4 linked regions of the Homo sapiens genome follow. The protein of the gene in region 1 interacts with the protein of each later gene in a pairwise test. Each region holds a gene or a part of one and is shown in the gene's direction. Other genes may lie near its edges. The genes, in order: PANX1, APOL2, SLC38A7 and BUD31.

Region 1 (7,988 bases):
ATTTCCTGTTTTACTACATTTTTATAGAATCACTGAAAGTTGCCTTTTTATTTTGGTGGGAAAAAAATAAAAAGAGGTTTTAGTGTGGAGAAAACCAAGAGATGTGGCATTAAATGATGTTATTATAGTGGTGATCAAGGTACAAGGCTATTTTAGGGAAATTTACACCCTATATGTAATTTGTTTTTCTAATTACAATGAGCTGTGCTGAACTATTCATTGTACCACTTATTGTACCAAATTATTGTACCACTTGGGCATGTTTAAAAATACCACAGACTGTAAATAGTCACTTTTTAATTCAAGGGAACAGTTCGAAGTGAAATGCCATTATTCAAATAGCTTTGAAACAAAAGTGACTTATACAGATGTTTCACAAGCCCATGTTAGAAAAAGTTTTCTCCCTGTGGTTCCCAGATAGAATGCCTGGCTTTCGTGGTTATGGAAGCAGCAGAAACTCTGTGTCATGCACTTATGTTTTTAAACTAATGGGCACCCTTCTGATTGGGCAAGAATTAAATGAACATTCCTTCTCCCCACAGCCAGCTATGAATTATGCAGCCAAAATTCAGCTAATCACAGCCTGCTTTGTGTGTCATTGTGTAGCAGCCCTTTGCAAATTGGGTTAATACTTTTGAAACACCTCATCCCGTGCCAGAATGCCAAAGTAAAGCAGCTGTCTTGGTAAGAGGGCTTTGCAAAGTTTTGGGGTCATTTGTGCTTATTTCTGTCTTGCGTCTGGGGCAGAGATTCCTTATGTGGGTCTGTGATAGTGACAGGAGGCCTGCAAACTAGGATAGGAAAATATATGACAGCTTTATTTTTTATTCACTTCCAAATAAAATTTAGCATTAAGAAAGTTTTTATGTAGGCAACAATCCATAGTGATATTAGCAGTACCTGTGAGTTTGTCACCCACAGAAAATCACAGATATCCTGGAATATCGTTTACTCTTCACTACTTCAAAGTTTCAATAGCTGTTAGATCATCTGCTAGATCCTAATTTAAGTATGAATAAAGAATTGGATGCAAAATATTAATATTTTGGTAACTGTATATCAGTGCTCTATTTCCTTTGTGAACCTATATATATATTATTTTATGCATTTAAAAACAAGGAAAGATTGAAGAACTGTCACAAAACCAAGGAGTCTAGGGAGACATGGCAACTAAATGCAGTGAGTACCCTGGATTGGATCTTGGAACAGGAAGAGGACAGTAGGGGAAAAACTACTACTGTACTTTACAAATAAAAGTCTGAAGTTTAGTTTCTGATAATGTGCCGATGTTGGCTTCTTAGTCTTAACAAATATATCACAGAAATATGAGTCATTAGCAATGGGGGAAACTGAGTGAGGGGCTTATGGGAATGCTCTGTACATCTGAAATTACAGTGAGGGCCATGTTGTGGGGGCTGCCGTCCACTCCCAGAAATGTTTTGAGGGGAGGGTTTCATGTCAACTTACGGCCATCATGGCCTCGTCCATTACAACTCTGAGAAATGGTGGAGATAGACCCATCCAAAAGTAAGGAGAAGTTTTCCAGAGGAGTAAAGTAATTGAGAGTGTGTTAGATTGGAAAAAGATGTCTCTGGGGTCAGAGAGGTTGGCAACATAGTCTGACTCTCACTTACCAGCTTTGTGATCTGGGGCCAGAAACTGCTCCCGGCTTTCTCTTCCCATTTGCAGAATGGAGCCATCTATAGAGTCCCTGCCAGGGTTGCTGTGAGGACTGAACATAACGTGTCCACCTAGCTAATCTTTTTGTGGTTACCTGGAGTGTTTGAGTGCCTGTTCTATGCCAGGCCCTTTGCTAAGCATTTTCCATCAATTATCTCCTTTAATCTTCATGACACCTCTATTCCATGACCATTTCATACATAAGGAAACTGAGGGTCAGAGACTTTGAAAACTAACCAGATGGATGGGCTAAATGCTGGGGACAGCGGGAGCCATTGCAGGTACCTGAGCAGGGTGAACTTGGCGGTTCCAAGAGTTAAGCCTCAGTAATGGTGTACAGGAGAGAATAGAGGCAGGGAGAGCCACTTGGTAAGCACAGAGTGAGGGTTCTAATTAGGGAACAGAAAGGAAAAGAAGCAGTTTTGTCCAAGAAGGCAAAGAGCAAACAAAAAGCAATACTCTTATGTCTTATTGCTGATTAGAAGATCACGCAAAAGGATAGTCGAAAGTGACATCAAGGGCCTAGACCAGGGTCAGCAAACTTCTGCAGAGGGCCAGATCATAAAGTTTTTTTGTCATTGCAGATCACATGGTCACTGTCGCAGCTACTTAGTTCTGCAGAGTAGACATGATTGCCCAAGGCCGCAATGCTGAGCTTCAATTCAGATCTGCACTGACTGCAATTTACGGTCTTCCTAAGTCTTCTGCTGAGGCTAAGCCACCTCTGACCAACTGGTGGTCCTGGTTACTGGGGTGCTCCTCACCCTCTCTGACGTGTGAATCCCCTCTTGTTTGGTGTGTGTCTGCACCCTGATGTGGATGCTCTCCTCTTGATTCCCTTGCCCGTTGTGGATGGCCTCTCTGAGCCCAAGTTTATCCAACTATACGATGAGGGTGTTGGACTGCCTTCAAAGTCTGTTCCACATTCATTCTGCATTCTGTGAATTCAACTGCTTATTTCAGCTGTCTTATTGGGATGATTACTGAATCACTGAAGTCGAAGCTTTTCTAATTTGTTTTGGGGGAAGTTACATGTTTCTTTGGCATTTTCCCAGATTCCAGAGTAGGGCAAAAATGGAGCCGTATGCCTTAGTTGCTTCTTAAAACCATAAAAGTTAACAAAAACCCAGCAGAAGCCTTCGTGATAGCTGCAGGTTTCTTAACTGGGATTTTGTTCAGGGAACGGGAGTAATTTTATTTTTTTATTTTCCTTCTGTGATTAGAACGTACACACCATGTGTCACCATGCAGTTGCTGATTACTTCAAATTAATACCTATGGAAGAAAAAAAAATAGGTAGTTACCTGTGACAGGTATTACCTGGACAGGGGAATTTAGCCATAAGAAGTAGTTATTAGGTAATGAGCCCAATTTCCACAATACACATTTGTCTCAAGATGTGAGAAAATGAGAGCATCACTTGGCGCCATAGGTTACTGCATGGGGGGTTTGTTAAGCCCATGATTTGTTCTCTTGTTTTTCAGTTTTTCCCCTACATCCTGCTGCTCTTTGCGATCCTCCTGTACCTGCCCCCGCTGTTCTGGCGTTTCGCAGCTGCTCCTCATATTTGCTCAGACTTGAAGTTTATCATGGAAGAACTTGACAAAGTTTACAACCGTGCAATTAAGGCTGCAAAGAGTGCGCGTGACCTTGACATGAGAGATGGAGCCTGCTCAGTTCCAGGTGTTACCGAGAACTTAGGGCAAAGGTAACTTAGCCCCAGCAGGCAGCTCATCGGGTTTTGTAGGACAAATTCTCTGCCCTTCTACTGCCAGTCTGGGCCCAGAGTTCTCATTGCTAGGAGGCGGGGCAGGAGTGGAAGCAGGGGGACGTCATGCACCTAGTGACAGCCTGTAGTATCCCGGGATGTCCACTCTCCCCAAATCTCACCGCGACCCATCCTACCCATTTGTTTATCCTTCTGTCAAGACTCATTCCCTTGATGAGTGAAACATTACATCTCATTTTAAAAATGCAGTTCTTGTAGGGGTAACAGATTGAGGTGCTATATGAAGCTTGCTTGCTTTGATCTATTTAACTCCTTAATGGAGACGCACAGAGGATTTCAAGGCAGCTGAGCAAGGGATGAGAGAGAAATGGGGAATGAGTAGGTCGTGGCTTGCCTTTTCACAACCTTCTTTTGGTTCTTGTTATTGAATAATTGGAATAATAATAAGAGCCATCATTTTTTGAATATTTAATATATCTCACACACCGTATTGAGTTATTTAAGTACATTATCTCCTTTAACCCTCAGAGCAACATTACTAGTGCATTTGTTAACCTCCTCCTCCACTTTTATTCTGGATAAAAATACTCTTCTGTAGCTGTAAGTGAGAGTCTGGGAACTGAACCATGCCCTTTAGACCCCATAGTTTTTGCCCATACCCCCTGAGTTGTCCCACCCCTTGCCTGTAAGAGGCGTATGCTTACACATATTTAGGATTTACCAGATGCCAGGCATCACTCTAAAAATTTCCAAATATTAACTCATTTAATTAACTAGGCCTTCTGTTAAATATTAAGGGGAAAAGCATTTTATTATTCCTTTTCTTCCTCCTCTTTTAAACGGATTTTATTTTTGACTACTGACGTTGTAGGTAAAGAAGTATGGGTGTTTGAAATTTTTAGTGTGACATTGTTGAATGTGTATCTGCCTTTAATATTTGATGGTCTTGATGAGTGCCTAAGTTATTTTTGTTTCCTTTATTTTTTAGTTTGTGGGAGGTATCTGAAAGCCACTTCAAGTACCCAATTGTGGAGCAGTACTTGAAGACAAAGAAAAATTCTAATAATTTAATCATCAAGTACATTAGCTGCCGCCTGCTGACACTCATCATTATACTGTTAGCGTGTATCTACCTGGGCTATTACTTCAGCCTCTCCTCACTCTCAGACGAGTTTGTGTGCAGCATCAAATCAGGGATCCTGAGAAACGACAGCACCGTGCCCGATCAGTTTCAGTGCAAACTCATTGCCGTGGGCATCTTCCAGTTGCTCAGTGTCATTAACCTTGTGGTTTATGTCCTGCTGGCTCCCGTGGTTGTCTACACGCTGTTTGTTCCATTCCGACAGAAGACAGATGTTCTCAAAGTGTACGAAATCCTCCCCACTTTTGATGTTCTGCATTTCAAATCTGAAGGGTACAACGATTTGAGCCTCTACAATCTCTTCTTGGAGGAAAATATAAGTGAGGTCAAGTCATACAAGTGTCTTAAGGTACTGGAGAATATTAAGAGCAGTGGTCAGGGGATCGACCCAATGCTACTCCTGACAAACCTTGGCATGATCAAGATGGATGTTGTTGATGGCAAAACTCCCATGTCTGCAGAGATGAGAGAGGAGCAGGGGAACCAGACGGCAGAGCTCCAAGGTAGGGTTTGCTTTTGGCAGAGGCTACGGGAGTCTACCGAGAGCCTTTGCAGCAGCCTTGTGGGAATATTGACAGTCTTTACCCTGCCCATCATTTAAACCATTTCCAAGCATTAAAAACCTTAATACCAAGGTGCGGGGTAGGGGGAGTGGGAACCCCTCAGTATAAGGAGAGAGAGGAAAAGAATTGGTGCTGCTCTACATTTCCAAAGAAGAATAACTTCTGTGCTTTTTCTGGTTTTTCCCTCTTCTCTGTCTGTCTCACACTCTCTCTTGCTCAGCAATCTTCCTTGTCTTTCTTGCTTATTTTTGTCTTATCTTACTGGCTTTCCTTTCTACCTCTGATCTCCTTCTCTGTTACTCTCTGACTTTCTCTTTCAAAGGGGACTAAAAGTTTATTGATTCTTTTAGTTAGGCCAAGAAGCAAAACATGGTATAGACTGTGAGAGGAATTTTTGGCAGAAGAAAAATTGATTAGTATTGGTAATTCCTGCTATGTTTCTGTCATAAATATTTGTTTTCAATTTTGACAGGTATGAACATAGACAGTGAAACTAAAGCAAATAATGGAGAGAAGAATGCCCGACAGAGACTTCTGGATTCTTCTTGCTGATGATTTTTTTCCTTGAGCTGTAAATCTGTGACTTCTGCGACATGGGATTTAATTTGGCTAAAGCACCCCTGTTGGTTTCACAGCTGGTTTGCAATAAATGGTTCTTGGTGGAGATACTGAGCATGTCTTATTGAGTCCCTAATGGAAATGGTGATCAACAAAAGGTTATGGAAGAATGGTTTATGAACTTCCCATAGGAAGCACCTGAGAGATAGTAAACTGCAGCAAGTAACTATGTGTAAGTCCTCATCAAATGAAAAGCAGAAAGACAAGAACAATTAGTCAAGAGCAGTAGCCCTGTCAGAGCCTCGGAGCAATACCTTTCTGTACCCGTGGTGAGACAAGACCCAGAGCTACTGGAAAACAAGCACTTTGGAAGATTTGTTTTGTTTTCATGGAATAATAATATGTCAGGGTATAATTTAACGTGAGTTTCTTATGTGCCCTTAAAGACTGTTAGACAAGAAAAGCATTCACTGGCTAATAATCCATAGGTCGACCTATGTCCTAAGTTAGGTGTAAGGTCCGATGCCTTGGCCCACACTCGAGCTCTCTTTACATTGTTAGTTGTCAACCTTGGCTGATGGAAATCCCGTAACCACTATTTGTTGCACTGTGCCTTGAAGGGCAGCAGGCCCAAGTGCTGCTCTGACTGAAAACTGAGTTAACAAGATGAAATCTAAAGGATATTCACAGTGACTTCAATTCAGGAAGAATGCTTCCAAAAGAGCCCAGTGGGGAAATCTGACATCACAGAAGACATTAATTCAGTCACTTTCAAAGAGTTTGTCTACAGGCGGTTTCTCTGTTATCAAAGGCATTTGAAATAGGATTTTACTTAAACAATAATGGAACACAGGAGTATTTAAAGTGAAGAACACTTTGCCTGAATGTGATCAGGGCACATAAGTGACATTGGCATGCTTCATATGGCGTGCTTGGAGCCAGAAAAACTTAGCGGTTTATTTTGTTTATATTTAAGCACAGCTTTAAAAAATTCATTATCGTTTATTCAGTGTCCGAATTGAGGCCATTTGGGAAGAAAATTCTAGCACTGGTGGAGAATTATAGAATAAAGATTATAAATGGTTGGATAAGACAAATGTAAGCTTATTTCATAAACATTTAAAGCTGATTCAGAACATGTTAAAAACTGTTCCCAATTCCAACTATGTAAATAGATCCTATGTTCACATTTTACACACACACACAAAAATCTTTAACATCTGTGGAACTTCCCAGTTTTAGTCTTAGAAAGTTAGCATGTTGCATAAGTTCAGTAATCCTCAGGAACCTCCAAGTTTACTTTTAGCTCTTACGGACAGTTGTTTACATAATCTAATTACTGTTTTCTGAAGAACGGAAATTATATAAGCTGCTGTCTGCCTTTTGGAATATTCAGAAAAGCAGATTTTATTTGTACTTCTGTGATGTTTTCTGAAATGGAAAGCTGATGATAAATATCAAAGTAGCAATCAGTGCGTTAAATTATTCTGTTACATGATATTTATTACTGTTGAATTATTCTGTGACTTAGAAATGGCAGTAACCTAAATAATGGAATTTGCAAAATTATTATATTGCCGTATCTGAGATGTTCCATCACAAGTTTCTACACTGGTTTCTTTTGAAAATTTAAAAAGATTTACGAGATACATTTTCTAGGATATGATTTTTTTTTTACAAAAAGCTTCATCTTCTGTAGACTATCCTTAATTTCTATTTTGAAACGGTAAAAATTGATATTTTAGGACACCAGGAAGTCTCCAAGCCATTCCCACTCTCTGAACTCCAGTAGGGTCTGTGATGTCCCAGGCACCAGTACCAAGTTGGATGTGCAGATATGCATAGGCAGGTCCCATCCTTGAGGACTTCAGAGTCCAGTAAAAGGCAGCAGAAACATGGGCTGGTGCCTAAGAGGAGAAAGCGTAGCCACAGTAAAGGCTATGCCAGAAAACTCCTAGCAAATGCTCTGTGTTCTTGGGAGAGGGCACATTGTTTTTGTTTTCTCTCCTATAGTTCCTGTAACTGCTGGTTTTGAGAATATAGTAATCATTTTTCCCAGAGGCAGATGACCACCTTAAGGTTCTTTAGCTGCAAATCCTCTAGGTTGAAGTTTGTGTGAAATAGTCACAGTGATTTTGAATAGTAAGGAATCCAGTTGCCTTTTGAACCTTCCCTCACAGGGATGAGAGAACAAGCCTGTGGAGGTTGTGGAGCTACTGGTAAACAACTGTCAGGGCCCCAGAAGGCTGATGTGGAGGCCTGGGGATACATTTCATCTAATAAAAGTATTACTAGGTATCAGTATCAGTAATAAAAG
Region 2 (8,482 bases), on another chromosome or scaffold:
AAACTTATTTGAGGGAATAATTGAGGAAAACTTCCTTGGCCTTGCTAGAGATCTAGATATCCAGATACAAGAAGTTCAAAGAACATCTGGGAAATTCATCACAAAATGATCCTCACCTAGGCACATGTCATCAGGGTATCTAAAGTCAAGAAGAAGGAAATAATCTTAAGAGCTGTGAGACAAAAGCATAAGGTAACCTGTAAAGGAAAATCTATGAGATTAACAGCTAATTTATCAGCAGAAACCATACAAGCCAGAAGGGACTGGAGTCCTGTTGTTAGCCTCCTTAAACAAAATAATTGTTAGTCAAGAATTTTGTATCCAGCAAAACCAAGCTTCATAAATGAAGGAGAGATAAAGTCTTTTTCAGACAAACAAATGCTGAAAGAATTCGCCACTACCAAGCCAGTACTACAAGAAATGCTAAACGGAGTTCTAAGTCTTGAAACAAAACCTCGAAATACACCAAAATAGAACCTCCTTACAGCATATTGTTTTATAAGCCTTAGGGCCTATAAAACAATAACACAATGAAAAAAATAAGGTATTTAGGCAACAACTTGCCTGATGAATAGAACAGCACTTTATATCTCAATACTAACATTGAATGAAAATGGGCTAAATGGTTCACTTAAAAGGTACAAGGGCTGGGTGCAGTGGCTCACATCTGTAATCCCAGCACCTTGGGAGGCTAAGGCAGGCAGATCACGAGGTCAGGAGATCGAGACCATCCTGGCTAACACAGTGAAACCCCATCTCTACTAAAATACAAAAAAAAAAAAAAAAAAAAATTAGCCAGGTGTGGTGGTGGGCGCCTGTAGTCCCAGCTACTCGGGAGGCTGAGGCAGGAGAATAGCATGAACCCAGGAGGTGGAGCTTGCAGCGAGCCAAGATCGCACCACTGCACTCCAGCTTGGGTGACAGAGAGAGACTCCATCTCAAAAAAAAAAAAAAAAAAAAAAAAAAAAGGTACATAATGGCAGAATGGTACCGGTATAAAAATAGGCACATAGATCAAGGGAACAGAATAGAGAACCCAGAAATAAAGCCAAATACTTTCAGCTAACTAGTCTTTGACAAAGCAAAGAAAAACGTATAGTGCGGAAAGGACACCCTATTCAACAAATGGTGCCAGGATAATTGGCAAGCCACATGTAGAAGAATGAAACAGTATCCTCATACAAAAATCAACTCAAGATGGATCAAAGACTTAAATCTAAAACCTGAAACCATAAAAATTCTAGAAGATAACATCGGAAAAACTCCTCCAGACATTGGCTTAGGCAAAGAATTCAGGACCAAGAACCCAAAAATAAATGCAACGAAAACAAAAATAAAGAGATGGGACCTAATTAAAGTAAAAAGCTTCTGCACAGCAAAATAAATAATCAGCAGAGAAAACAGACAACCCTCAAAGTGGGAGAAAATATTTGCAAACTGTGCATTTGACAAAGGACTAATATCCAGTTTCTACAAGGAACTCAAACAAATCAGCAAGAAAAAAAAAATAATCCCATCAAAAAGTGGGCAAAGGACATGAATAGACAATTCTCAAAAGAAGATATACAAAATGAAATGGCCAAAAAAATATGAAAATGTGCTCAACGTCACTAATTATCAGAGAAATGCAAATTAAAACTGCAATAAGTTGCCACCTTACTCCTGCAAGAATGGCCATAATTTAAAAATCAAAGAAGAATAGAAGGGTGCAGTGGCTCACACCTGTAATCCCAGCACTTTGGGAGGCCAAAGCAGGTGGATCACTTGAGGTCAGGAGTTCAAGACCAGCCTAGCTAAAATGGTGTGAATATGGTGACAAGGGAAAACTTTTACACTGGTGGTGGGAATGTAAACTAGTACAACCACTATGGAAAACAGTATGGCAACTCCTTAAAAAACTAAAAGTAGAATACCATTTGATCCAGTAATCCCACTACCGGGTATCTACCCAGAGGAGAAAAGTTATTATATAAAAAAGATACTCGCACATGCATGTTTATAGCTGCATAATTTGCAACCGAAAAAATATGGAACCAACCTAAATGCTCATCAGCCAACAAGTGGATGAAGAAAATGTGTGTGTATATACACACACACACACACACACACACACCCCTATATATGTATATGCCATGGAATATTACTCAGCTGTAAAAAGGAAGGGAATAATGGCATCCGTAACAATCTGGATGAAGTTGGACACCATTATTCTGAGTGAAGTAACTCAGGAATGGAAAACCAAATATTGTATGTTCTCATTTATTAGTAGGAGCTAAGCTATGAAGACACAAAGTCACAAGAAGGATACAATGGGCTGGGCGCCGTGGCTCACACCTGTAATCCCAGCACTTTGGGAGGCCAAGGCAGGTGGATCACTTGAGGTCAGGAGTTCAAGACCAGCCTGGCCAAGATGGTGAAACCCCATCTCTACTAAAATTACAAAAAATTAGCTGGGTGTAGTGGCAGGCACCTGTAATCCCAGCTACTCGGAAGCTGAGATGGGAGGATGGCTTGATTGTGCCACTTGAAGTAGCTATGATTGTGCCACTGCTCTCCAGCCTGGGCTACAGAGCAAGACTCTATATCAAAAACATAACAGAAAACATAACCTCAGAAGCATTACAATAAATATGCAATAAGCATCCACCCAGCATGTGTGGGGGACTGTGCTGATGCTGATGGCATGTGTGGGAGTAAGGCAGGCATCTGAGGAATGTGGGGGAACGGAAGGACGGGGAGTAATCTGGAGAGCCCCACGGTCAGTCAGTGGCAGGTCTTTCTTGAGCTCAGAAAGGTTAGGTAACTAGTTCAGATCAGACAGTAAAACAGGGGCAGAGCCTGGAATTGCACTGAGGCTTGAGTCTGACTTCTCTCCCCCACCTGCTGTGCCCTTAAACTGCAGAGATCGGGGCGGGGGTTGGGGGGCAAGCGGCTCAGATGGGTTCAAAAAACTCCCCAGGCTCAACTCTGGTTCTGACTGCCTGAGACATGGGCAGCTGACACAGCAGACCTTGAATCCTGAGGATGTGAGGCAGGTGGGTTGGATGAGAGGGACCCGGATGTCTGGTCTGCGGCTGCTCCTCTAAGTGCAGCAGCAAGGAGGCTGGGCCTGGACTGCAGGTGGTGCTGGGGAGCAGCGTGTTTACTGTGCTTGGTCATGAGCTGCTGGGAAGTTGTGACTTTCACTTTCCCTTTCGAATTCCAGGGTATATCTGGGAGGCCGGAGGACGTGTCTGGTTATTACACAGATGCACAGCTGGACGTGGGATCCACACAGCTCAGAACAGTTGGATCTTGCTCAGTCTCTGTCAGAGGAAGATCCCTTGGTAAGTTGGGGATAGTGTGATCTACCCCCATGTCCTTATTCTTGCAATAGCTCTATAAGGGAAGGATCATTCAGCTTTTGTAGATAAGCTCAGAGAGGTTAGGTAGCTGGTTCAGATCAGACAGGAAAGCAGTGGCAGAGCCGGGATTTGCACCCAGGCTTGAGTCTGATTGCTCCCTCCCTCCTGCTGGGCGGGTAAACTGTAGAGAGAGGTGGGGAAAACAGCTTAGATGGGTTCACAAAGCTCCCCGGGCTCAGCTCTGGTTCTGACACCCTCAGACACGGCCAGCTGACCCCAGAAGAAAGGTAGGTGTTGGGGGTGCCCATCTCTTTGGGAAATTTGAAGGAATCAAAGAAGGTGGAGGAGGGGAGGTGACCTGGAGCCCGGCATGTCCTTGTGGCCGGGCCACACCCAGGCTGGCCCCAGGGTGCTGCTGCTGAAGCCCAATGGGAACAACAGATTTCTTTTGAGACACAAGGAACTCAGAGGTTGTCTCACTCACCCTGAGTCTGAGCACCTACTTGTGCCAGGCCCTGTGGGGAAACTGAGGCCCTGGGAGGGGAATGACTTGCCAGGGTCCCGTGTCAGGAGGCTGAGCAGGCAGATCATAGGACTTCACGTCTCTGGCCCTCACCTCTGTCCCTCTGTTCAGACCTCTGAGCTGATAGAGAAGAAACAGGCTGTGCTGTGTCCCTAATGGGAAACATGGCTGAGACAGGGGAGTGAGAAGGTCGCATTGCAGAATGGTACCTGTGGCATGATGCCAGCTTTGCAATCATGAGATTCAAAAGCCACACTGTGGAATTGTGAGTATAACTACAGGAGTGAGAGCTTAGGTCTCTGTGTTTGTAGAAGCAGAATCAAACCTGGACACTGTTGGATTATTAAAATCACCCATTTTTGCTTCAATATCAGAGTCACAAGGGCAGATGTTGGCCTCCCCTCTGCCCTCCAAGAGCTGTGTGACTCTGGGCAAGTCACCTCCCCTCCCAGCCTAAGATTTTTCCCCTCTAAAAAACTTGATAGAGCTGCCAAAAGTCCATGAAATCAGGGGGGTAATTTCTGTGAAATATGAGTCATGGTCTTATTTGTTCTTCACCAAAAAGAGATGCCCATCAAGATAGAAAGAAAAATTAAATTCAATTTCTCAACTGAAAGTGAAACTGAAGCTGGGCCATGTCATCCAGAGGCTGGTTGCTTTTAGTTCAAGTAATGCCTCCTGCACCTGGGATTTCAGCCAGGCTGTGCCAGGGAGGGCGGAGGGCATCCAGGTCAGTCGTAGGGGGTGCAGCTGGGAACACAACAGTGTCCCCATTGAATGTTCAGAGTCTAAAGGGGAGACAGAGGCCCAAAGAGCCACATACAGGTAGAGCTCCCTCTGGAAAGCAGAGTGCTCAGGGAGCCTGGGGAGGGTTGGGGGCCGCCGCATGGACCAGGCAGCTTTGGGTGGGTCTCTGAGGACAGGTGACTTGCACATGGTGGGGACAGTGGGGGGGACATTCCAGGGCGAGGGAGCAGCTGAGTGAAGGCCTGAGGCTGGGGATGGGAGTGGGAGGAGTAGATGGGCTCCAGGAGGCACCGAAGCAGGGCGTCAGTGGGTGCCTGGACCTAAGGTGACTGTGGTGGCAGGGAGCGGTGAGGAAGGTGGGGTCCAGAGCATCAGAGGGCCTGTGTGCCCTGCTATGGGGTTTGAACTTGACCGTGGCTTTTCACTGAAGATTCCTCAGAAGGGTGCAGTGCCACGGCTGAGGCCTGTAATTCAGTGCTGTGGGAGGCAGAGGCGGGAGAATCACATGATGCTAGGAGCTCAAGACAGCTTGGGCAACACAGGAGATGCTGTCTCTCTGAAATGAAAAATTAACAAATTAGTCCTGCATGGTGCCGTGTGCCTGTAGTCCCAGCTACCTGGAAGGCTGAGGCAGAAGGATCACTTGAGCCCAGGGGCTCTAGGCTACAGCAAGCTGTGATAGCCCCAAAGCACTCCAGACTGGGTGACAGAGCAAGACAGTTTCTCAAAAATAAAATGAAAATGACGATTTCTCAGGAAATCATTTCGACTCCTCTTTCCCTGCCCAAGGAGGATGCCCCACAACCACTTGGAGGGAGATGCTTTGCTGAGAGTCCCTGTCCTCTGCATCTGGAGAGCTTGGCTCAGAGCTGAGGTGGGAGGGAGGGCTCCTCTTCCAGGTCGCTCAGTTGGACACCGGAATTGACCAGCCTGCAGGCTCACCCATGGAGTACACACTGTGTCCTAGTCAAGCCTGAGGGGCAGTATCCAGCCTCAACCCCCAGCAGAGGCTCCAGACAAAGGTGGGAGCCAGGCCAACAATGACCCAGGAGGATGGGATCCTGGATGCAGCTCCTCACAAGTATTGGGCAGGTCCGAGGCCCCAGCTCTGTCTGCCCTCCTGCTCCTCTTCTCCCTCCTGGTCCTCCTGGTTCTCATGGCTCATGAGATGGCGTTGAGACAGCTCCCCTGGCCTAGGGTGTCACAGAGTGAACAAAGCAGGAAGAAGGGGAAGGGAAGACCCCCTCCCGTCACCCCGTCCCTTACAGCAAGAAGTGTCCAGATGCCCCTCTGCATACTCCCCTGGTGAACTGCTGCCCAGGACTGGGTCCCCCTTTTAGTCTTGCTGCGTAGGGGCCCCAGAAGACAGATATCTGGATGCCTCGACCCTGAAACAGAGGTGGGAAGTGGAAAGAGGGAGGCGAGTGGCTTTTGAGGAGGGGGCTTTTGTATAAGAGCTGGAGGATGCCCGGGAACCACTGAGCTGTTAAAATAAAGTCTGCAAACAAAGACCAGCTGCTGGAAGTGGGTGTGCCGGGGAGTGCGCAGAGACACAAGGTGAGAAAAGAACAATGGTGATTTTGGAGCCGCCCCTAACTGGGATGGGCCTGAATCGGTATTATCATTATTACTTATAGTGTCATTATTAGTCATTTTCATCTTGTTTGTACACTCCCTCTATCTCTCCTCTCCACCTTTTCCTAATATTGTATCACCAGTTTTATGTCCTCCATTAGCAACTTTGTAGCTGTAAACAATTTACTTACAACTTTCTTTCTTATACTCTCAGTTTTACCTAGTATTTCTTGACTCCCCTCTTTAAAAGATGACAATATTAATCCTCCTTCTCCTTCGTTCAGTGCTTCACATCCCAACTGCTACCTTTGTGCTTTAAGTTTGTACTAATCGGTAACAAGTATATTTAGTTCTCATATTTATATGCTCTGTTCTGTTCTCAAAGTTAAAAATCAATCAAGAGTGTTTACATTTTGTGATGTTTTAAATACTATTTACTGTGGAGCTGAGTTGTACACCATGTTTGCACATGTTTTGTGGCACAGCTTTACTTTTTCCTGATGTTTCTAATTGCCTTTGTTTTTTTTCCTCCCTTGTACTGCTTGCCTTCTTCATTTCCTCAGTTTCTCTCAAACTGTGAATCCTTTGAGGTATTCTATTGAGTCCCTTTTTCCCACAGAACCATTCCCTTTTTATTCCATCCTGGACTGGTCGTTTTGTAGGCCTACTGCATGTCCCACTGTGATCCTCAGATTCCCTTCTCTCTGGGTTGATTTTCCTGTTTTCTGGATCCCATGTCTTTTTCTTTCTTGGTTATCCCCACCTGCCCTCCATGGATGCACAACACATACACACACACACACACACACACACACACACACCCACCCACCCACCCTTTCTTCCTCCCGGTGGCTCATTCTCAAGTAGCTTTCTTAGAACACCCTGTGACCCTGTGCCTGGTAACTTTTCTATTCCCCATATAGCTCCTTTTCCTCTGTCATCTTTTTGGTTTATTTTCTGGAGGATTTCCGTGACTTTCTTTCACATGGTCTCTCTAGACTTGTTTATTTGATCATCACCTTTTAGTTTCTAGAAAATCTCTTTTTTTGTTTGTTTCATTGATTTTTCTTCTTTTCTATATATCTTGTTTTAAGTTTATGAATAAAATATTTTTTAATCTCCCTGAGGACATGGGTTTGAGATTTAAAAAATTACTTGTTTGTTCTGGACTCCTTTTGTATTTGGTCATCTTGGTCTGTTTCCCCACTTTCACCTTTCTCCAATTTCTGATCCTAGATCTATTCATATTGAACGGGGTGGGGGGCAGGTCTACTGGCAGTCTTCCCTGTAGGGTGATTGAATGGGAACCCACTGAAGTGTCAGAATACAAAGATATTATTTCTGGGGCATATTGCTTCAGTCATGAACTCTCTGATTTTTTTCACTGGTGTAGACTCAAGGCTGGCATGAATCCCATATGGCACGTGGGCCTGGTGAACTCCTCCCCTCTCTGAGGCTCTGCCTAGTAGACCACTCTGCCTGGCTGGATGCCCTCTTGGCATTGCTGTGGTTCACAGCTCCCTTCACCCCTCTTTATTCAGTTGTCATTTCTTCAGCCAGTTCTGTTTTCCAACATCTCTTGGCATCTCTGATCTCCTGTTGCCCTCATTTAAATTTTCATTGGCAGCAGAGGGTGCAGAGGCAGTGCGTGAGTTCTTGAGTCCGTCTGTCTGGGTGGGAACCCAGTCTTTACCACGTAGTAGATTCTGAGCTTGGGCAAGTCACTGAACATCTGTTTCAGTTTTCTTACCTGAAAATGGAAATACCAATGGTACACACTTCCTAGGTTCTTGGAAGAGTTCTGTGAGTTACTATTTATAACATCTTAGAGCAATTAGTGGTGCAAAATCCACCAATGTTTGCCCACATTAACATTAAGTGCCATTATACCTGTAAGTGCCTTGACTATGGCTGTAGTTTGATCTCAGGAGGGGAGGTTGATAAATGCTCTTCTGTCTTCTTAAAACAGTGCCTAAAGATGATTAATATGATTAACATTTGCTATTTTCCCTCACCTCCCAGGGTAAGATAATCAGGAGCAGAATGTGAAGAACTTTCCTCTATATAAAGATCAGCATTTATTCAGGCCGGGTGTCGTGGCTCATGTTTGTAATCCAGCACTTTAGAGGGCAGGGTGGGAGGATCCCCTAAGGCCAGGATTTTGCCAGCAGCCTGGGCTGCATACTAGGAGTGAGACCTTGTCTCAAGGAATAATGTTTTGTTTTGTTTTGTTTTCCTGAAGAAAAGACTACTGAGAGCCAGTAAGACTGAAAGAATGGACATCTTCATATCC
Region 3 (7,988 bases), on another chromosome or scaffold:
CTATTTTTTTTTTTTTTTTTGAGACAGAGTCTCACTCTGTCTCCCAGGCTGGAGTGCAGTGGCACGATCTCTGCTCACCGCCACCTCCGCCCCCCGGGTTCAAGTGATTCTCCTGCCTCAGGCTCCCGAGTAGCTGGGACTACTGGCGTGCACCACCATGCCCAGCTAATTTTTGTATTTTTAATAGAGACAGGACTTCGCCATGTTGGCCAGGCTGGTCTCGAACTCCTGACCTCAAGTGATCAGCCCGCCTTGGCCTCCCAAAGTGCTGGGATTACAGGTGTGAGCCACCGCACTCAACCAGTATGATTCAATTTATATAAACTTTTTGGAGGCCAGGCACGGTGGCTCATGCCTGTAATCCCAGCACTTTGGGAGGCTGAGGTGGGTGGATCACTTGAGGTCAGGAGTTTGAGACCAACCTGGCCAACATGGCGAAACCCCATCTCTACTAAAAATACAAAAATTAGCTGGGAGTGGTGGTGCATGCCTGTAATCCCAGGTACTCGGGAGGCTGAGGCAGGAGAATCACATGAACCCGGGAGGCAGAGGTTGCAGTGAGCAAAGATCGTGCCACTGCACCCCAGCCGGGGAGACAGAGTGAGACTCTGTCTCAAAAAAAAAAAAAAAAAAAAAAAAAAAAAAGGTGTGATTTGGGTTTCTAAGGATTCCCAGTGTGTCCTCATCGGTGAGGACCTCTGATGCATGGAGAGGTAAGTGCAGTGGAGAGCATATCCACAAAACAGAGATGAGGCTATTGGGATGCTGGAGATTACGTGACAATTTATGAGTGACACACAGCCAAGAACAGAACCAGGACTGGATGCCCATTTCGTCATTCAACAAATATTTACTGAGCACCTACAATCCCTCAAAAACTGTTCTAGAGTCTAAACCGATGGGGTCGTAACCATGCCCCCAGCCCACTCCCTTGCAGGAAAGACCGTGGCTCCAGGTCCCCCACATTACTGATTAAAAAAAAACTCCAGTGCTCTGGCCATGGGCGTGAAGGCAAGGACAGAGACCGGGAGGATAATGAGGCCAAACAGCTTTGGCCCACCGCCACCGGGACTGGCAAAGAGGCCAGACCTCCTAATGCTCTTCCTTGGAGGAAGGAGCAGTGTTTGATTTGGTCAAGAGGCCAAGACTAAAAGTAAGAGGATAAACACGAGCTGGCTGGACGCGAGGCTGGCTCAGGGCAGTGCTGTCGGGCTGAGGATTCAGGGAGCTGGTGTTGTCCAAGCTTCACATTTGCGGAAACTACAACTCCCAGCGTGTCCCGCGGCCGCCCGAGCGGGCGTCATGTGATGCATGCTCACGTGTCTCCGCAGCCGGCTCGGGAAAGAATCCCCCAAGGTAGGTGGCCGGAGACAGGCTCTGGAGGGTGGAAGTGTTAGATCCCCGAGGTCTGTGGAGCCCCTCAGTCCCCGCCACCGCGGAAAAGCTCAGACCCTTTCCCTGCAGGGGTCCAGATCCTGGCGTCCTCGCCCCACGCCCGTCCCTCTGTTGCGCCAGCTCTGCCGCGCCTTTACCCAGCCAGAGGGTCTCCACCCAGTCCTAGGCCGGGATCGGGTCCCGGAGCTCCTCCCCAGGTTACCCCACAGTAGCCCACCCTTCTCGCTCCAGGCCTGGGAATCGCCCCGCCCCGGCCTCCTGGCCCGGGTGCGCCCTGGCTCACCTCACAAAGCCTCACCTCACAAAGCAGCCCACCCTTTCTATCTCAGGGCTCCAACCCCAGGCTGGACTGGGAGCACACTCCAGTTGGGATCTGAGGGGCCTACATCGCTGGCCTGAGCATGTGGGCATCAGGCTTCTATTCTGGCTCTGCCAGCTACCCACTGTGACCTTAGTCTAACCTCTCCCTCCTGGGCCTGTTTTCCTATCTGTCCTGAAGCTCCATTTCATGAGTAAGCGTGAGAGCCGCTCAGTTTCCTCCAGCTCTGCTGAAGCCAGCACAGAAGTAGCCCAAACTCTTCCCTCTGCTGACAGCAAATTTTAGGCAAAGTCTTGAGAAAGAAGAAATTGGGTCCAGAAAGGGAAGTGAGGAGAATCAGATCCCAGACCTTTGGGGAGAAGGAGCAACCGCCTCTGGCACAGCCCATCAGGGAGAAAGAGCAGGTAAGGTGCAACAATGAGCTGAGTAATTTGCCAGTGAGCAGTGGGGGTGCCGAGAGGTCTTAACCAAGGCAGAGAATCTGCAAGAGGTGGGACCCCCAGCTTCTGAGTTCCACGAGGACCCCAGCCTGCACTCTCATGTGGGTGGCAGGAGAGGCTGGAGGATGGTGCAGGACTCGGGCAGGGGTGCCCAAGGGAAACATTTTGGTTGGAGAGTCAGGAAGCCGCACCAAGCCTTGTGACCTTGGACGAATCACTCTGTAGACCTCTGTCTCTGTGACGTGAGCAGCGGGGAGGAGATGGTCACAGCTCTGGCAGTGGTCACTTTGCAGGGTTCTTTCTCTAGCTACACTGGAAGCCTGGGAGTCCCAAGACTCTGCCTTCGCTGCTCACTGCTTTGATTTTGCTGAGTTGCTGGTTGGGTGACAGGATGTGTAAGAGGATGTGTAAGCCCTGTGACATCTGACAGATCTTTCTGGGTTTCGAGCCAGCAGAGGAATGTTTCCTCTGGTGCCATGTCCCTTGGTTCCATGCTTGATAACAGATGGCTGAGAGCACATGAACTTTCACCCTTTCCCTCTCATGAGTGGATGGTCCCCAGCTTTGTTTGTCCATCATCAGGAGGAGCAATGGGAAGTAGTCCAAGGGGTCTTGTTAGTCATTTTAAACCCCCAGTGGGCTGAAGGCATCAGAGAGGGTGGCCCAATGGTTAGGGCAGTCATTATGGCTGAATATGCTCAGTTCCCTTTTTTTCCCTCTGGGCTATAAAGACTAAACCAGGCTGGGGGCTGTGGCTCACGCCTGTAATCCCAGCACTTTGGGAGGCCGAGGCAGCAGGATTGCTTGAGCCCAGGAGTTCAAGACCAGCCTGGGCAACATAGTGAGACCTCCTCATCTCTACAGAAAATTTAAACATGACAGGCGTGGGGGGCTTGTCACGTGGGAGAAGTCACATGGGAGAAGAGTTGAGAATTGGCCTGAATTTTGAAAGGCCAATTTTGTTCCCCACAGGAACAAAAAATTTAAAAAGTTGGCCAGGCGTGGTGGCTCACGCCTGTAATCCTAGCACTTTGGGAGGCCAAGGGGGATCACAAGGTCAGGAGTTCAAGACCAGCCTGGCCAACATGGCAAAACCCCATCTCTACTAAAAATACAAAAATTAGCCAGGCATGGTGGCGGGCACCTGTAATCCCAGCTACTCAGGAGGCTGAGGCAGGAAAGTCTCTTGAACCCGGGAGGCAGAGGTTGCAGTGAGCTGAGATTGTGCCATTGCACTCCAGCCTGGGTGACAAAGCAAGACTCCGTCTCAAAAAAAAAAAAAATTTTAAAAGTTAGCTGGCTGTGGTGGCACACACCTGTAGTCCCAGGTACTCGGGAAGTTGAGGTGGGAGGATTGCTTGAGCCTGGTAGATTGAGGCTGCAGTGAGCTCTGATTGCGCCACTGCACTCCAGCCTGGGCAACAGAGTGATACCCTGTCTCTAAATAAATAAAGACTAAACCAGGGAGGGAGTAGAGATTAAAATGGAGTTTTGTATGAGTACCGTGAAATCGGGACTCAGGAATGAGGAGACTCTAGGAGAAGGAGTCTTTGGCAGATTTCGCCAGCCTGGGTGGTAACCAGCTAATAGCAGCCTCTGGGGAAGACTGCCCTGGCTCCTCCCTGCCCCCTTAGTTCCTGCCCTTGAAATCTGGCCTTCTTCCTGCTCTTTCTCCCATTAGCTATCCCAGGGCCTCTGTGCCCATTGTTACCTGGCCAATAGCACCAGGCTGTGGTTTGAGTTTTGTTTGTTTGTTTGTTTTGAGATAGAGTCTCACTCTGTCGCCCAGACTGGAGTGCAGTGGCGTGATCTGGGCTCACTGCAAACTCTGTCTCCTAATTTCGGGCGATTCTCCTGCCTCAGCCTCCTGCACAGCTGGGATTACAGGGGTGCACCACCACACCTGGCTAATTTTTGTATTTTTAGTAGAGATGGGGTTTCACCATGTTGGCCAGGCTGGTCTCAAACTCCTGACCCCAGGTGATCTGCCCACCTCGACCTCTCAAAGTGCTGGAATTACAGATGTGAGCCACCACACCCGGCCCAGGCTCTGGTTTTGATCAGTGTTCTGCTCCCTGCTTGCTTAGGGCTGGAGAGTCTCAGGCATGGTGGTGGTGGGCAACATGGGAAGGGGCATCTGCAGAAATAACAGCAGCAGTGACCATTTATTGAGTCTTAAACCCTTACTGATATTAACACACGACCCACAGGAACATATGATGTAAAGGCCTAAAGGGGCGAAGTGACTTGCCCAGGGTCACACAGATAGGCAGCGGAGGAGTCAGCATTCTGACGGCAGAACCTACTCGGAGACCCAGATCACAGCCCTGCCCAGGGCTGCTCTTGATCTGGGGGTGGACTTGATGCTTTAGGACCATCATTTCTCTGCGGGTCTCAGGCTATGAGCTGAACCTTGAGAACACTGAAGATCCTTTTTCAGGGCTGGGCTCCTCAGAGCCTCTCGAGATTCTTGGAAGAAAAAAAACTGCATCTCAATTGTGTTTATCCAGAGAGCAAAGAGAATCAGTCAGGTGATAAGCCTGTTATCTGAGTTCTGCCATACCCAAGGTACCATCTTGGACCCAGGAGTGGGGCAGATACAAACAGATGGATGCCCTATGGTCAGACAGGCCTGGGTTTGAATCCCAGCTCCACCACTGACCGCCATATGACTGAGGGGAGAGTGGTTATCCCCTCTGGGATTCAGCTTCCTCTTTGGTAAAATGGTGACTGTCATGTCTACCTTTTAGGGCTGCATTGAGGATTGAATGAGAAAGCATTCCATAGCTGCAGCAATAGTGGTTTATAGTGACAAACAGCACTGCATGTTTGGCACTGATCATTGTAATCTAGCCCAGGAAAGCAAGCCTAGTGGCCAGTGAGATGCTAGCACATGAGAGAGTACTGAGAAGAAACCAGCTAGAGTGGTTCTGGGCCCCTACATGGCTCCAAGAAGAGCTCAGTGAGTGACCCAGGAAATGGGGAAGAAATAGGACCTAAAAGGGTGGCGGCAAAGGAGTTGGGAGCATTAGAAGCATGGGATGAATCACTGTTTTCCTGAAGACGCAAACATGACAGGCATGGGGGCTTGTCACATGAGAGAAGAGTCGAGAATTGGCCTGAATTTCGAAGGGCCTCGAAAGCCACAGAATTCAGACTCCAGGCCACCGGGAGGCGTGCTGGACTGTAATATGTTGAATCTCAGTTCTTGGTAAGGGGTCCTTTTGGGACCCTGTGGGGTGGAAACAGGCTGGGAAGCCAGACAGATCTGGATCCAAATCCTGCTATGCAACTTGCTAATATATGACCCTGGGTCAGTGATGGGATCTCTCCGAACCTTTTGACCACAAGACCATCCTAAGGATTGAATGAGATAAAGTATATCCATGACACACCTGCCCGATGCGGGGCCTCTATCGAGTGCTGATGTGTTAGTACCCATTTTATGTTGACATCTAACTGGTCCATTGAGTCTGTATGCCTGAAGCAAGCATGATTTGCACCTGATCTGTTTCTGTGTCTGTCTCCCCATACTCTGGCACCCAGTGCACTGTCTGCACAGAGGCATACCTGGGTTTGGACCCTACCCATGTGATCTTGGGAAAGTTATTACACCTTTTTGTCCCCTAGTTCCCCCATCTTAGGATAACAGTAGTGCCTGCCTTTGTCCCATCTAGGTTGAGAAGAGTCCTAAGCTAACAGCCCCAAACAGGTGGGTGTTGCTCAGCTCCCTGAGGCATGTGGTTGTAAGGCAGAACCCACAGACCTTGCAGGAAGAAGGCTCTCGGGGCCATGGCCCAGGTCAGCATCAACAATGACTACAGCGAGTGGGACTTGAGCACGGATGCCGGGGAGCGGGCTCGGCTGCTGCAGAGTCCCTGTGTGGACACAGCCCCCAAGAGTGAGTGGGAAGCCTCTCCTGGGGGTCTGGACAGAGGCACCACTTCCACACTTGGGGCCATCTTCATCGTCGTCAACGCGTGCCTGGGTGCAGGGTTACTCAACTTCCCAGCAGCCTTCAGCACTGCGGGGGGCGTGGCAGCAGGCATCGCACTGCAGATGGTGAGTGCACTGGCCGGGAGGGCAGAGGTGCAGTTCAGTTGGGCGCTTTGCCTCAAAAGGGAGGCTTCGGGTCAGGGATGGCCAGTAAGTGATACACGCACTGCTCTCCCCTCCCTCACACATGGCAGACATGACTAATCTATTCTAGTATTCTTTCCTGTGACCCAAATGAGGCTTCAGAAGCCTTCCAACAATCAGAGAAATTTGAACATCAATTACATCTCTAATTTTTTAGGTGTAACATTGATTTTGTGGTATGTTTAAAAAGAGGGCCCTTATCTTTTAGAACTACATACTGAAATATTTATTGATGAAATGATATGATAGCTTATATTGGCTTCACAATAAATGCAGAGTGGGAGGGAAGGGGAATGATGAAACAAGTTGGCCATGCATTGATCATTTTTGAAGCTGAGTGATGGATACATGCCAGTTCTTTTTACTATTCTCTTTACTTTTTTCTTTGAGATGGAGTCTTGCTTTGTCACCCAGGCTGGAGTGCAGTGGCCCGATCTCGGCTTACTGCAGCCTCTGCCTCCCAGTTTCAAGTGATTCTCCTGCCTCAGCCTCCCAAGTCGCTGGCATTACAGGCACCCACCACCATGCCCAGCTAATTTTTGTATTTTTAGTAGAGACGGGGTTTTACCATGTTGGCCAGGCTGGTCTCAAACTCCTGACTTCAAGTGATCCTCCTGCCTCAGCCTCCCAAAGTGCTGGGATTACAGGCATGAGCCATCGCATCCAGCCTATTCTCTTTACTTTTGTATGTTGGCAATTTTTCAAAAAACTTTTTGTTTTTAAAGAAAATCTCAACTCGGCATCCTCTAGCAGTCTCTTAAAATTGCCTTTGTGAGATTTGCCAAGCTTGCTTTGGGCACTGGCCCAGTAAATGCTAGGCGAGCCCAGGGTGCCCTCTGCTGCCAGGCCTTTGCCACAAGCTCTTGTTCTGCCTCTGCCTGCAGGGTATGCTGGTTTTCATCATCAGTGGCCTTGTCATCCTGGCCTACTGCTCCCAGGCCAGCAATGAGAGGACCTACCAGGAGGTGGTATGGGCTGTGTGTGGCAAGCTGACAGGTGTGCTATGTGAGGTGGCCATCGCTGTCTACACCTTTGGCACCTGCATTGCCTTCCTAATCATCATTGGCGACCAGCAGGACAAGAGTGAGCTTCTCCCTCAGTCCCTACCCCATCTCTTCTTATCAGCCCCAGGGATCCTGGGGTGGAGGGAAAAGGCACTGAACACCTCTCCAGGACTTACCTGGGCCCAGCATTCATCTGGGAATCCTCCCTCCAGGCAGAGGGAGGTCCTGGGGCCCAGCAGAGCAGGAGGGCCACACCCCATGGTGGCCTGGCTTGACATTCCCTCCTTCCTCCCTGTGCAGTTATAGCTGTGATGGCGAAAGAGCCGGAGGGGGCCAGCGGCCCTTGGTACACAGACCGCAAGTTCACCATCAGCCTCACTGCCTTCCTCTTCATCCTGCCCCTCTCCATCCCCAGGGAGATTGGTTTCCAGAAATATGCCAGGTTTGGAGGCCCCAGCCTGGGTCAGACAGAAGCTATGATCCTGGGCAGCTGTAGACCCAAGGGCTCCTGGGGAACCCTGCTCCTCCATGCCACCTCACCTTGGGGAGCAAGAGTAGGCAAGGCAGGGCAGACCGGGGCTTGCAGGGTTTCAGATAAGACCATCCTTTTCTGTCTCCATCATAGAAAAAGGATGCATCCATGAGAGATTCAGTTCTAAATGTCCTTTTGCATCCATGAGTAGTTCAGTT
Region 4 (7,139 bases), on another chromosome or scaffold:
GTAGAAAAGCGATCATTCTCTTGTCACAGACTATGCGCCTTGGGGCCGAGACCAGAATTCACCTATTTTTAGCTTCAGCGTAGGGGAGACTAGTGCGAAGACCACTGATTTGGGAGTCAGGAGCCCTCCAGAGTCAGGTTTTGCAAATTCTCAGCTGTGTGACCCTGATTCTACCTTATAGAGTTTGATTCCTCCTCTATATGGTTGTTTTAGAGAGTTCATGAGAGGAGGCTCTGTGGGCGGGGGGGGGGTGGGTCTTTGTAAAGTGTCAGTACAGAAGGGAGTGACTGAATGAATTTGAGAGAGATGAATCTGTTATGCTGAAAGGTAAATACTTAACCTGGGTTCTCTCTGGCAGCAAGGAAATGCTGTGTGGTTTGAAAAACGCTTTGCTATTTAGATTGGGATCGGCCTCTTGTATGGGAACTACCTGACTTTATGTAATATGTTGTTTGGTGTGAAAGAGACCTTGGCAATCAGCCAATCCACTGCCCTCATTTTACAGAAGAAACAGGACCAGAGAGGGAAGGTGACCTGAAAGTCACAGAATAATTTTTTAGAGCTGAACAAGAATCCAAGCCTGCAACTGCAGAGACGAGAGATCTTTCTGCTGTCTATACTCTTGGAAAGCACATCCTAAGGTACTTTGATTTTACAGTCATCTTTCCCTTTTTATTTTATGTTTTGTTTTGTTTTGTTTGTTATTGAGACATGGTCTCACTCCGTCACTTAGGCTGGAGTGCAGTAGTGTGAACATGGCTAACTGAAGACTTTCAACCTCCTGGGCTCAAGTGATCCTCTTGCCTCAGCCTTCCGTGTAGCTCAGACCACAGGCACCCACCACCATGCTCAGTTAATTTTTTTGATTTTTTTTTTTTTTTGGTAGAGATAGGGTTTCACCTCATTGCTCAGACTGGTCTCAAATTCCTGGGCTCAAGTGATCCTCCCATCTCAGCCTCCCAAGGTGCTGGCCAAGACCAGAATTACAGGCATGAGCCACCGTGCCTGACCTTCCATCTTTGCCTTTTTAAATACTCACCCCCATGGCTCCCCGAGTCACAGCCCTCCTTATACTCTATTGTAATTGCTTTTTCTCTTGTCTGTCTCTTTGCTAAAATGTCACCTTCTAAGGGGCAAAGGCTTAACTTTTGTTCTGTGTTCCCAACATCCAGTATAGGGTTAAGCTTTTAGTTGAAGTTAGCTAATGACAACAGCAAATGTCTCTTAGGCACACATTATACACCAGGCATGATAGATACAATTCTAATGAAGTCTTTGCAATGACCACATAAGGTAGCTTCCATTATCCCCATTTTACAGATGAGGAAACAGAGGCTTAGGAAGGTTAAGTACCTTTCTGAAGATCACAGCGGGTAAGTAGCAGAGCCAGGATTTGAACACAGTCTGGGTGCTGAGCCCTGTCCCATAGCTGTGACCCTATGCTGACTCAAGGAAGTCAGCCTGTACCGAAATAATGGCTGGCAAAGGCCTTTGGGGATTTGAGACTCAGAAACCAATTCATTTTTTTCCCCCAGATCTTTGCAGATTATCCTGTGGAAGGAAAATGCCTAAAGTCAAAAGAAGCCGGAAAGCACCCCCAGATGGCTGGGAGTTGATTGAGCCAACACTGGATGAATTAGATCAAAAGATGAGAGAAGGTGAGTAGGGGAGTTCCTGTCTGGGTGGGCTGGGTCCAAGGGTCACAGGCTTAGATGCCCCCAGGGGACAGGCATAAATGCAAATATAAAAAGAGAGTGGTCTACTAACACTGACATGTTGTGTTTGCTTATGAACTTGGGGAAATACTGTAAGTGCCCGAAAATAAGATAACATTAATGAAAAGGTCCTCAGAAAAGGTGTTTTTTTTTGTTTTTGTTTTTGCCAACTCGAATATAAAAGGTTATGAAATATAGATCAAATAGTCTACCTATAGTTATTTACTATTTTGGTTAGATATATATTTAAAATCATACAAAATATATTTACTTGGAAGTGCTATTCCTTTTCAGTATCATCGATTAGTCTTTGCCGCATCTGTTTTCTGTCACTTCCTTGTAAATGGCGTGTGATCCTGCTTTGTGAACCCGTGTCCTATGCTGTCTTTGGAAATTTTATCTGAAGCCACAAGCATCTGTTGGCCTTATATGATCACAGTGTGGCCACTTACCAATTGACTTTTTTATTTTTATTTTTTGAGTTGGAGTCTTGCTCTGTCTTCCAGGCTGCAGTGCAGTGGCGTGATCTCGGCTCACTGCAACCTCTGCCTCCCGTGTTCAAGTGATTTTCCTGCCTCTCAGCCTCTCGAGTAATTTGGATTACAGGCATGCGCCACCATGCCCGGCTAATTTTTGTATTTTTAGTAGAGATGGGTTTCTCCATGTTGGCCAGGCTGGTCTCGAACTCCTGGCCTCAAGTGATCCACCCACCTCGGCCTCCCAAAGTGATGGGATTACAGGTATGAGCCACTACACCCAGCTGAAGTTACTTTTTAAAGTAGCTTTTGAAATGCTTGCTTGTAACTAACCTAATCATGGTTATTATGAGGTCGTACCTCCAGCAGTAATTACTAAATTAAATCAATGTTAAATTACTTTGCCCCTTTTTAAAAAAACTGTTCGTACCAGATAACTTCTATTAAATACTCAGTACTTGTTTTGCAGTTTAGATTTGGATGGGCCTATTGCAGTAATCACGGTCATTTTGGGCTGAGAGATGTCTTCCCGAAACAGCTCTTTATCAAAATAAAGGAAATGGGAGCATGCTGGAATAGAAGAGATTTTGCAAGTCCTTGAAAGTAAATTAACTTCATCTTCTAAAGGGTGACTTTTGAGGGAAGGAGGAACCCTACTTTGTGTTTAGATATTCTTTACCTCCAGACAGAAGTATTCTTTGTTCTGTTTTCTTTTTGTTTTTGTTTTGAGACAAGGTCTCACTTTGTTGCCCAGGCTGGAGTGCAGTGGTTCAATCACAGCTCACTGAAGCCTCCACCTCCCAGGCTCAGGTGTTCCTCCCACCTCAGTCTCCCAGGCAGCTGGGACTACAGGCATCCACTGCCACGCTTGGCTAAGTTTTCTTTTCTTTTTTTTCTTTTTTTTTTTTTTGAGACGGAGTCTCGCTCTGTCACCCAGGCTGGAGTGCAGTGGCGCGATCTCCGCTCACTGCAAGCTCCGCCTCCCAGGTCCACACCATTCTCCTGCCTCAGCCTCTGGAGTAGCTGGGACTACAGGCGCCCGCCACCATGCCCAGCTAATTTTTTTTTTTTTTTTGTATTTTTAGTAGAGACGGGGTTTCACCATGTTAGCCAGGATGGTCTCGATCGCCTGACCTTGTGATCCACCCGCCTCAGGCTCCCAAAGTGCTAGGATTACAAGCATGAGCCACCGCGCCCGACCAACGCTTGGCTAATTTTTTGTAGAGATGGGGGTGTGTTAGTCCATTTTCACGCTACTGATAGACATACCTGAGACTGGGCAATTTACGAAAGAACGAGATCTAATGGACTTACCGTTCCATGTGGTTGGAGAGGCCTCACCATCATGGCAGAGGCCAAGGAGGAGCAAGTCACGTCTTAACATGTGTACCTGCTGAATCTTTACTACCTGCTTTTCTGCTTGGATCACAGCATTCTGTTTGTTGAGCTGAATTGTAATTCCTAGGTAATAGAATGGCTTAAAAGCTGGAGACAGGGAGGGATAGTCTTCTTGACCACTCTTCGCCCTTCTGTTCTTCCCTAAAAACTGAGGAGGTCATAGACAAAGATGAACTTGTGACTGCTGAGAGAGAGAGAACTGCCTTGCGGCAAGTATGAGTGCCACCTGATCCTGCGTGTGTTGAAGGAGCAGCTTCTGCTGTGGCTACTTCCCTCAGAACCTGTAGACTGGTCTAGTTTATTTAGCTTTTCCTCAGCCCTAAAGGACTTTGGCTGGGAGATGAAATTAGAAGTGCCTTCAAGATGATTAGGATGCCCATCTGTGGGCCTAGAATTATCTTGATTAATTATTACGCTGTAGAAATAGATCTGAAAGCATAGGGACCAAGGTTGGTTTTTTGGCTTTTTTTTGTTTGTTTTGTTTTGTTTTTTTTTGAGACAGGGTCATCTGTCATCCAGGCTGGAGTGCAGTGGCACAATGTCAGCTAACTGCAACCTCTGCTTCCCAGGTTCAAGCACTTCTCGTGCCTCAGCCTCCCGAGTAACTGGGATTACAGGCATGTGCCACCATGCCCAGATAATTTTTGTATTTTCAGTAGAGACAGTGTTTTGCCCTGTTGGCCAGGGTGTTCTCGAACTCCTGACCTCAAGTGATCCACCCACCTCGGCCTCCAAAAGTGCTGGGATTACAGGCGTGAGCCACTGTGCCCAGCCGGGACCAACCTTTTAACAGAAGTTACCATTAAATGTCTTTAAAAATCTATGTTTTCTAATTCTGTAATTAAAAAGACTTTTTTTCTTGTCACATGGGTAATGTGCCAACGTTGTGACAAGGTTTGAGAGTGGCATGTCTCACACATGGATGTGAACACCCAAGCACACTCATGAATTACAAAAGGATCCAAAAATAGACATTTTTAATTTAAAACAATTATGTTTAAATTACTTAGCTTATTTTTTATTTTTTTATTTTTTTTTTTGAGACGGAATCTCACACTGTTGCCCACGCTGGAGTGCAGTGGTGCGATCTTGGCTCACTGCAACCTGTACCTCCCGAGTTCAGGCAATTCTCCTGCCTCAGCCTCTTGAGAAGCTGGGATTACAAGCGTGCACTACCACGCCCGGCTAATTTTTTAATTTTTAGTAGTGATGGGGTTTCACCACGTTGGTCAGGCTGATCTCGATCTCCTGACCTCGTGGTCCGCCCACCTTGGCCTCCCAAAATGCCCGGCGGCTTATTCTGTTTTTAAATAACAGCTTTATTGAGATATTAATCATATACTGTAAAAGTGAACCTGTTAAATTATCCAATTAAGGGGTTTTTAGTATATTCACAAAGTTGTACGACCATTGCCACAGTTAGTTTGATGTTTCAAGGTTCATCTGTGTTGTAGAATATATCAGTACTTACTTCATTCCCTTTTTTTTCTTTTTTTGAGACGGGAGTCTTGCTTTGTTGCCTAGGCTGGAGTGCAGTGGTGTGATCTCAGCTCACTGCATCCTCCGCCTCTGGGTTCAAACGATTCTCCCACCTCAGCCTCCCAAGTAGGTGGGATTACAGGCATGCGCCACCATGCCCTGCTAATTCTTTTGTATTTTTAGTAGAGATGGGGTTTCACCATGTTGACCAAGCTGGTCTCAGACTCCTGACCTCAAGTGACCTGCCCACCTCAGCCTCCCAAAGTGCTGGGATTACAGGTGTGAGCCACCGATTCCGGCCAGCCCTGTTTAACTTCTTGAGGAGCCACCTAACTCTTCTGCAGTGGCTCCACCATTTTACATTCCCACCAGGAACGTAGGAGAGTTCCAATTTCTCCACATCCTTCCCAACACTTGTTATTGTGCCATAATTTTGATTATAGTCATCTGTAGGGTCCAGCCCCACAGGGTCGGTGGGTTTCTCCCCGTGTGTGGAGACGAGAGAGCGTAGAAATAAAGACACAAGACAAAGAGATAAAAGACAGCTGAGCCTGGGAATCCCACCAAGACGCGGAGACCGGTAGTGGCCCCAAATGCCAGGCTGCACTGATATTTATTGGATACAAGACAAAGGGGCAGGATAAGCAGTGTGAACCATCTCCAATGATAGGTAAGGCCACATGGGTCACGTGTCCACTGGAAAGCGGGCCCTTGCCTGCCTGGCACCAAGGCAGAGAGAGAGAGACAGCTTATGCCATTATTTCTGCTTATCAGAGACTTTTAGTACTTTCACTAATTTGCTATTGTTATCTAAAAGGCAGAGCCAGGTGTACAGGATGGAACATGAAGGCGGACTAGGAGCGTGACCACCAAAGCACAGCATCACAGGGAGATAGTTAGGCCTCTGGATAACTGCGGGCGGGCCTGACTGATGTCAGGCCCTCCACAAGAGGTGGAGGAGTAGAGTCTTCTCTAAACTCCCCCGGGGAAAGGGAGATTCCCTTTCCCGGTCTGCTAAGTAGCGGGTGTTTTTCCTTGACACTAACGCTACTGCTAGACCAAGGTCCGCTTGGCAACGGGCATCTTCCCAGATGCTGGCGTTACCGCTAGACCAAGGAGCCCTCTGGTGGCCCTGTCCGGGCATAACAGAAGGCTTGCACTCGTTTTCTGGTCAGTTCTCACTATGTCCCCTCAGCTCCCATCTCTGTATAGCCTGGTGTTTCCTAGGTTATGATTGTCGAGTGAGGATTATTATAATATTGGAATAAAGAGTAATTGCTACAAACTAAGGATTAATGATATTCATATATAATCATATCTAAGATCTATATCTAGTATAACTATTCTTATTTTATTTATTTTATTATACTAGAACAGCTCGTGCCCTCGGTTTCTTGCCTCGGCACCTGGGTGGCTTGCCACCCACAGCCATCCTAGTGGGTATAAAGTGGTATTTATTCATTATCAGTAGTTACTTACAAAAAGAAAATCCTGCGCAGACCGACCCTATTCCCCCAAACACACTCTTTGTTTCTCCCCAGCTGAAACAGAACCGCATGAGGGAAAGAGGAAAGTGGAATCTCTGTGGCCCATCTTCAGGATCCACCACCAGAAAACCCGCTACATCTTCGACCTCTTTTACAAGCGGAAAGCCATCAGCAGAGGTAATTAGTCAGTCTCTCTTGGACTTTGAAGCTCGCGTCACTTTTGGAGTTACTGAACTAACCACAATCCTTATTCTCGCAACCTGTGCAAGTCATGGTTTTTCTTACCACGAAAATTAGGGGGAGCCAACGTTGGCTGAGTTTTGTGTGTGTGTTTGTTTTTTGTTTGTTTGTTTTGAGATGGAGTCTCACTCTGTCACCCAGGCTGGAGTGCAGTGGCGCAATCTTGGCTCACTGCAAGCTCCACTTCCTGGGTTCAAGCGATTCTCCTGTCTCAGCTCCCAAGTAGCTGGGATTACAGGCACCTGCCACCACACCTGGCCAATTTTTGTATTTTTAGTAAAGATGGGGTTTCACCATATTGGTCAGGCTGATCTTGAACTCCTGACCTCAGGTGATTCACCCGA

What was found.
Region 2: the proteins of PANX1 (region 1) and APOL2 interact in binary tests that used the Homo sapiens proteins (3 or more experiments, as listed by UniProt).
Region 3: the proteins of PANX1 (region 1) and SLC38A7 interact in binary tests that used the Homo sapiens proteins (3 or more experiments, as listed by UniProt).
Region 4: the proteins of PANX1 (region 1) and BUD31 interact in a two-hybrid assay, tested with the Homo sapiens proteins (one large-scale study listed by BioGRID and IntAct).

Annotation. Positions count from the first base shown.
Region 1 is NC_000011.10:94,175,205-94,183,192, forward strand, and holds the end of PANX1 (pannexin-1), read left to right. Parts: intron 1-542; exon of another isoform or gene 543-684; intron 685-3,164; coding exon 3,165-3,388; intron 3,389-4,397; coding exon 4,398-5,053; intron 5,054-5,585; coding exon 5,586-5,665; 3' UTR 5,666-6,764; downstream 6,765-7,988. UniProt on the Homo sapiens protein: Ion channel involved in a variety of physiological functions such as blood pressure regulation, apoptotic cell clearance and oogenesis.
Region 2 is NC_000022.11:36,234,285-36,242,766, reverse strand, and holds the start of APOL2 (apolipoprotein L2), read left to right. Parts: upstream 1-3,239; 5' UTR 3,240-3,326; exon of another isoform or gene 3,327-3,631; intron 3,632-5,918; exon of another isoform or gene 5,919-6,171; intron 6,172-8,431; exon of another isoform or gene 8,432-8,482.
Region 3 is NC_000016.10:58,678,085-58,686,072, reverse strand, and holds the start of SLC38A7 (sodium-coupled neutral amino acid transporter 7), read left to right. Parts: upstream 1-1,302; 5' UTR 1,303-1,356; intron 1,357-1,741; exon of another isoform or gene 1,742-1,894; 5' UTR 1,895-2,118; intron 2,119-5,831; 5' UTR 5,832-5,946; coding exon 5,947-6,216; intron 6,217-7,178; coding exon 7,179-7,377; intron 7,378-7,598; coding exon 7,599-7,740; intron 7,741-7,988. UniProt on the Homo sapiens protein: Symporter that selectively cotransports sodium ions and amino acids, such as L-glutamine and L-asparagine from the lysosome into the cytoplasm and may participates in mTORC1 activation. The transport activity requires an acidic lysosomal lumen.
Region 4 is NC_000007.14:99,409,529-99,416,667, forward strand, and holds part of BUD31 (protein BUD31 homolog), read left to right. Parts: intron 1-505; 5' UTR 506-641; intron 642-1,535; 5' UTR 1,536-1,564; coding exon 1,565-1,658; intron 1,659-2,416; exon of another isoform or gene 2,417-2,455; intron 2,456-2,660; exon of another isoform or gene 2,661-2,767; intron 2,768-4,449; exon of another isoform or gene 4,450-4,550; intron 4,551-6,609; coding exon 6,610-6,732; intron 6,733-7,139. UniProt on the Homo sapiens protein: Involved in the pre-mRNA splicing process. May play a role as regulator of AR transcriptional activity; may increase AR transcriptional activity.